Homo sapiens: one gene and its partner. The protein of the gene in region 1 purifies or fractionates together with the protein of each later gene. This does not show direct contact. Each region holds a gene or a part of one and is shown on either strand. Other genes may lie near its edges.

Evidence for each region. Proteins that work in one complex are often made in the same cells at the same time.
Region 2: the proteins of VPS8 (region 1) and VPS33A purify together in Homo sapiens (affinity purification with mass spectrometry; 2 studies listed by BioGRID and IntAct, with this or other methods). This does not show direct contact.

The regions. Positions count from the first base shown.
Region 1 is NC_000003.12:184,864,021-184,867,776, reverse strand, and holds part of VPS8 (vacuolar protein sorting-associated protein 8 homolog), read right to left. Parts: intron 902-3,756; coding exon 827-901; intron 1-826. UniProt on the Homo sapiens protein: Plays a role in vesicle-mediated protein trafficking of the endocytic membrane transport pathway.
Region 2 is NC_000012.12:122,238,862-122,242,617, forward strand, and holds part of VPS33A (vacuolar protein sorting-associated protein 33A), read right to left. Parts: intron 3,648-3,756; coding exon 3,521-3,647; intron 1,085-3,520; coding exon 1,017-1,084; intron 1-1,016.

The DNA.
Region 1 (3,756 bases):
CCTCCGGGGTTCAAATGATTCTCATTCCTCAGCTTCTCGAGTAGCTGAGATTACAGGCACCTGCCACCACAACTGGCTAATTTTTGTATTTTTACTAGAGACAAGGTTTTGCCATGTTGGCCAGGCTGGTCTTGAACTCTTAGCCTCATGTGATCTGCCCGCCAAGACCTTCCAAAGTGCTGGGATTACAGGTGTGAGGCAACGCATCTGGCCTAGAACTCACATTAAAGAGTAAGTCTATTTAAAGGTCTACAGTCCAAGAAGGAGTTAATTCCATGGACAAGAAGCAAGGAAAGCCCAAGCTCATTTCCCTCTACTGACTTGGCAATATTTTGGTTAAATTTTAATAATGAAGAAATGTTTCTCCATGTTTTTTAAAAAGCACAGGAACAAACTGAGATAAATTGAGGTACAGAAAGTTCCTATTCCAACAATTCTATTCTAAGTCAAATACCTCAATACATTTTAATCAGCATCCTAAGCTGATCTAAGCTAACAGCCATCTTAAGTACATGACAAATATCCATGATTAGGTAGCTGCCTGGTCATAAAAACATAAACGTGAAGGAAGCTTACAAAAGCACATCTCTGAATCAAGAAAATAAGCATCCTATTAGCCAGCACCTAAACAAAAGTAAAGAATATGTCTAAAAGTAGAGGAAAAAAATAATTAACTAAAAATCATGCCTACCTAACCACAAAGGGTTTAGGATAATTGCTGACCAATATTCACTTTGCAATATACTGCCCTCTTTACCAGCAATCTCCTTCAGCCTCAACTACCCTGATACATACAAATACCAACTCACAGAGTAAAAGAGCTTACTTTTGTCCCCAAATAAAAGATCTGACCACCATAGCTACTGATGGATTGATAACAAGCCTTCTCTCCAACCAAAGCCTGGAAGAAAAACATACATACAAAAAAGGTAAAAAAATTCCTTTGTATTTAATATATTTTTTAACATTTCATCACTATTAATGACTTATTAGTTACACGTCTTTTTTAGTGATTATAGTTTACAATGTGTAACTTATCTCAGTCTACATTTAAATAATATTTGGCATATACTGTAAGAACCTTGCAATGATGTACTTTCATCTCCTACATCCCAGCGCTACATACTATTTTTGTTATATATATTGCTTCTATAGATCATAAACTTCACAACACATTATTTTTGTTTTAAACAGTCAATTGCTTTTGTTAAACAACAGTACTGAGATATAACACACACCATAAAATTCACTCATTAGGCACAGAATTCAATGATTTTTTAGTAAATGTACAGTTGTTCAGCCATTATCAAAATCCATTTTGAGAACATTATCATCACTCTGCAAAGATCCTTGTACCCACCTGTAGTCACTCCCATTCCCACCTCCAAACCCAGGTAACCACTAATGTACATCTGTCTCTATAAATTACATTTGCCTTTTCTGGACATTTTATATGAATAGAATTAAACAAAATGTGCTCTTATTGCATGTCTTCTTTTACTTAGTATGTTTAAGATTCATCCATGTTGTAGCCAAGTATCAGCTGTCATACTTTTTACTGTGGAACAGTATTCTATTAAATGGCTATGCCACATTTTGTACATCCCTTTACCAGTTAGTGAATATGTAGATTGTTTTCACTCTTCGGTTATTAACAATAATACTGCTATGTGTGTTCATATACAAGTTTTTATATAAGCGTGTGTTTTCAACTCTTTTGGAAACACACCTAGGAGTAGAACTTCTGAGTCAGATTGGTAATTCAATGTTTAACTTTTTTTTTTTTTTTAAGATGGAGTCTCACTCTGTCCCCCAGGCTGGAGTCCAGTGGCACCATCTCGGCTCACTGCAACCTCTGCCTCCTGGGTTCAAGCGATTCTCCTGCCTCCACCTCCCGAGTAGCTGGGATTACAGGTGCCTAGCACCAAGTCTAGCTAATTTTTGTATTTTTAGTAGAAACAGGGTTTCACTACGTTGGCCAGGCTGGTCTCGAACTCCTGACCTCAGGTGATCCTCCCGCCTCGGCCTCCCAAAGTGCTGGGATTACAGGCAAGAGCCACCACGCCTGGCCTCAATGTTTACCTTTTAATTAAGTGCCAAACTATCTTCCACAGCATTTGCGCCATTTTAGTTTCCCACCATCAATGTATGAGGCTTCCAATATCGCCACATCCTTGCCAACACTTGTTATTCTTTTTTTTATGATAGCCTTCCCAGTGGGTGTGAAGCAGTATCTCATTATGATTTTGATTTGCATTTCCCTAATACCTAATGATGTTGAGCAGCTCTTTAAGTGCTCACTGTCCACTTCTAAATCTTTACAGATCACTGTTGACTGTCTGATGAGAAATGGGTTCTCATAATTATTGCTCCTCTGCATTTAATGTGTCTTTTTTTCCCCACTGGTTGCTTTAAAATTTTTCTACTTATCATTAATTTTGATCAATTCGTATACAGTTTATTTTAGTTGTGCTTGGGTTCACTGAGCTTCTTAAATGTGTGTGTCTACAGTTTTAGAAAAGTTTTTGACCATTAGTTTTTCCAATTTCTTCTCTCCTTTAGAGATTTTAACTGCACGTACATTAGGCTATCTGATGTGGTCTCACAGTTCACTAATACTATTTCTTAAAATTATTTTCCTGCGTTTCATTTTGTATAATTTCTATTGTTGTATCTTCAAATTCATGAATCGTTTTTTCTGTATTGCCTAATCTGCCATTAATCCCATCTAGCGCATTTTTTCATCTATAAGCACTATAGTTTTCATCTCTAGAAGTCTGATGTGCATCTTTTCAAATATCTTCCATGTCTCTACTTAACTTTTTTAACTAAAGAGTATAGTCATAATAACTACTATGTCTTTGTCTGCTAATTCTAACATTTATGTCAGGTGTGATTTAGTTTTTATTTTTCTCCTTGTTATAGGTTGTTTTTCTTCTTTGCATACCTAGTAATCTCTAATTGGATGGGAGACATTGTGAATTTTACCTTGTTGGTTTCTGGATCTTTCTGTATTCCTATTAATATTCTTGTGTTTTCTTCTAGGAGATAAGTGATTTGGAAACAGTTTGATCCTTTCTGGTCTTACTTTTAAGATGTGTTAGCTGGGACCAGTGCGCCATTTATTCTAGTCCTAATGAGGCAAGATGCCTCTAAGTACTCTACCCAATGCCCTGTGAATCATGAAGCTTTCCATTCTAGCTGGTGTAACAAGCACTGTTTTCAGCCCTGTGTGAGCACTAGATACGGTTCCCTCTAAACCTTTCAAATGGCTCTTCCCTGGTCCTTGGGCAATTTCCTTCTATGCATTTGCTGATTAGGAGTCTGAGGAACACTCAAGAGGGACTCTTTCATAGTGCTCTTTTCTCCAGTACTCTCTCTTGCAAACTCAACCCAATTTTGTCTTCCTGCAACTTGGCTCTGTCTTCTCAAATCATGGAGTCTTCCAGGCTCCATTTGGGTTCCTCCACAGCCCAGATGCTCTCTCAAGGCTGGAAGCTAGGACAATCACAGAGTTCACAGCATTTGTTCCCCATTTGGTGAGAGATTGCTGTCCATCACTACAGATGTCCAGTGTCTTAAGAACTGCTGTTTACTTTTCTTCTTCTTCTTCCTTCCCCCTTCCCCTCCCCCTCCCTTCTCCTTCTCCTTCCTCTTCCTGGGTTATTTCAAGCAGGAGAGTAAATCTGATTCCCCATAACTCCCTCTTGGCTAAAAGTACAAGTTCAAAGTCCACTAGTATTTTTAATACCATTC
Region 2 (3,756 bases), on another chromosome or scaffold:
AAAGGAGATACGTGGGAAAATGAGTTATTTTTCCACAGTCCCTAACCCTTCCCCGAAATAGCTCTGCTAGCCCCAGCCACACACACACCCTGGCCACCACACACACACACACACCCCACACACACATACATACATACACACACACACACACACACACACACCCCCCAGTGATCAGGCCAAGTCACTGGAGCCCAAGGCCGCTGAGAATACAATTGGTCACTCCATATGCCTGTCTGGACACGTCTGTCTCTAAGGACACGCTTCTGAGAGGCTACCAGATGTCTACTCCATTTCAATAGTATCAACAACTAATCTAGCAAAAAGTATCAGTAATTGTTTTATGTTAGGAATTTTCATAAAGTGAATAATTTAAAATTTGTTAATAGAGCTATTTAAAGGAGTTATATAAGAAACTCTTTCAAAAGAGCAAATACCTTATCTAATACAGTCTTAAAAAGATTTGATTTTAGGGGCCAGGTCTCATGTTGCCATGTATGGCAGAAAGTGTCTTGCACAGAATAATGTTAAATATCTGTTACTTGATAAAATCTACACTTGCACATTTTGCATTTGCTCTTAAAAATATTTAAGTGGCCGGGCGCAGTGACTCACGCCTGTAATCCCAACAGTTTGGGAGGCCAAGGTGGGCGGATCACAAGGTCGGAGATCGAGACCATCCTGGCTAACATGGTGAAACCCCGTCTCTATTAAAAATACAAAAAATTAGCCAGGTGTGGTGGTGAGCGCCTGTAGTCCCAGCTACTCGGGAGGCTGAGGCAGAATGGCGTCAACCCGGGAGGCGGAGCTTGCAGTGAGCAGAGATGGCGCCACTGCACTCCAGCCTGGGCAACAGAGCAAGCTGGGTGACACACAGTGAGACTCCGTCTCAAAAAAAAAAAAAAAAAAAAAAAAAAAAAAGGCAAGGCATGGGAATCAAAGCAATTGGTTTTCTGGCTATAATCTGAGGTTTAATAAGCTTTCAATTACTTGTTAAAGAGGTTTTTTTGTCCACATACCTTATCAGTGTCTATTCCAGACATAAACTCCTGTTCCACGGTTAATTTATCAAAAAAGTCTTCAGAAGCTAAAATGAAATTAGCAAATTTGCAACTTAGAAATTAAATGTTAATTTACTTGAGTGGCATGCTTTTATACACAGAGCACGATTCAGAAACTAGACATGTGGCTGGGCACGGTGGCTCACACCTGTAATCTCAGCACTGTAGGGGGCCGAGGTGGGTGGATCACTTCAGGCCAGGAGTTCAAGACCAGCCTGACCAACATGGCCAAACCCCATCTCTACCAAAAACACAAAAATTAGCTGGGTATGGTGGCACACACCCGTAGTCCCAGCTACTCGGGAGGCTAAGGCACAAGAATCACTTGAGGCGGGGAGGCGGAGGTTACAGTGAGCCAAGATCACACCATTGCTCTCCAGCCTGGGCAACAGAGCGAGACTCTGTCTCAAAAGAAAAGAAACCAGACATCATGCAAAAAAGCAAGCAAGCAATAAGTTCAAGTCATCACCTGAAGAAAATCTTTTAGGAAACATGGAAAACGCTAGGCCTCTGCACTCCTAAGTTACACTAGATACAGTCGACAAGTGCACTCTTTTGTATCCTTAGGATTTCAGTACAGACCCCAGAATGAGCGTCAGTATGAATGAAAGCTAATTTCTCAAGAACATTTCATTTTCATCATTAGGTTCAACCCAATTTCAACTGGTTTCCACTCCTATGAACAGGGAAACAAAGGACTGATTTTCCGATAACTGTGATTTACTTAAGATTCGAAGTATACTTCATAAAACAATCTCCTACTCAGCTTTTACAGCCCTGTGTTGTAACAAACAAACAAACTCATGTCTGCTTTAATAGATGTCTTCTGAGCTCTTTCAAAATACTCAACATATACTCTTTGTACCAATTCTGCACAGAATATTCAAGGGAAGAACATGCGCCAATAAGTAATCCTTCAAAAAAGGAAAAAAGCTGCTGGCCGCGGTGGCTCATGCCTGTAATCCCAGCACTTTGGGAGCCAAGGCAGGCGGATCACCTGAGGTTGGGAGTTTGAGACCAGCCTGACCAACATGGTGAAACACCATCTCTAGTAAAAATAGAAAATAAGCCAGGCGTGGTGGCAAGTACCTGTAATCCCAGCTACTTGGGAGGCTGAGGCAGGAGAATCACTTGAACCCGGGAGGCAGAGGTTGCGGTGAGCCAAGATTGTGCCATTGCACTGCAGCCTGGGCAACAAGAGTGAAACTCCGTCTCAAAAAAAAAAAAAAAAGAAAAAAAGCTAGACTAAAAAAATTAACCATCTCAGATTATGATGGCAAACTTATGGATAATTTTTTTCTCTTATCTACATTCCAAATATTTTTCATATAAATGATAATGAAAAAATTTGAGTTAAAAAATGGACCCTTCCTCTCTTTCTCTTTTTCTTTCTTTCGTTATTTCGAGATGGAGTCCTGCTCTGTCGCCCAGGCCGGAGTGCAGTGGTGCAATCTTGGCTCACTGCAACCTCTGCCTCCCGGTTCAAGCAATTCTCCTGCCTCAGTCTCCTGAGTAGCTGGGATTACAGGTGCCCGCCACCACACCTGGCTAATTTTTGTATTTTTAGTACAGATGGTGTTCCACTATGTTGGCCAGGCTGGTCTCGAATGCCTGACCTCAGGCGATCCACCTGCCTCGGCCTCCCAAAGTGGTGGGATTACAGACATGAGCCACCTCGCCCAGTCTTTTTTTTTTTTAATGGAGTCTCGCTCAACCAGGCTGGAGTGCAGTGGCGTGATTTCAGCTCACTGTAACCTTTGCCTCCAGGGTTCATGTGATTCTCATGCCTCAACCTCCTGAGTAGCTGTAACTACAGGCATGTGCCACCATGCCCAGCTAATTTTTGTATTTTTAGTAGAGACAGGGTTTCGCCATGTTGCCCAGGCTGGTCTTCAATTCCTGGACTCAAGTGATCTGCCTGCCTCAGCCTCCCGAAGTGCTGGGGTTACAGATGTGAGCCATCATGCCTGGCCAACAAATGGAACATTCTTTTTGTTTTGTTTTTCGAGATGGAGTCTCACTCTGTCACCCAGGCTGGAGTGCAGTGGCGTGATGTCGGCTCACTGCAACCTCCGCCTTCCAGGTTCAAGCAATTCTCCTGCCTCAGCCTCCCAGGTAGCTGGGACTACAGATGCATACCACTGTGCCTGGCTAATTTTTGTATTTGTAGTAGACATGGGGTTTCATCATGTTGGCCAGGCTGGTCTCAAACTCCTGACCTCAAGTGATCTGCCCGTCTTGGCCTCCCGAAGTGCTGGGATTACAGGCATGAGCCACCATGCCCCGCCTGGAATATCCTTAACTATTAACATATGTATACTTCATTAACACTGAGAAGAACACGTGGTATTAAGACAGAGCTGACTCTCCCGAAGAGGCATTGTGGTGTTGATGACCTAGGTGTCAAACGTTGTATGTGCAAGTAGCCCCAGACTGAAACAATCATTACAAAGGATACTCACTAGTGACATCTTTGATCAATTCTGCAATTGAGGTATGGTTTGCAAGCGAGCCCCTTGCTGCCTGCATGTGGGGCAACTGGGAAACAAACTGCTTGATCTCCCCCACGGTCTTAGCATTGTGTCTTTCCTGAAATAAACAAGAGAGCAGTGCCTCAAGCAGGGAAGATAGTTTATTTATTTTATTTTTTTGAGAAGGACTCTCGCTTTGTTGCCCAGGCTGGAGTGCAGTGGCGCAA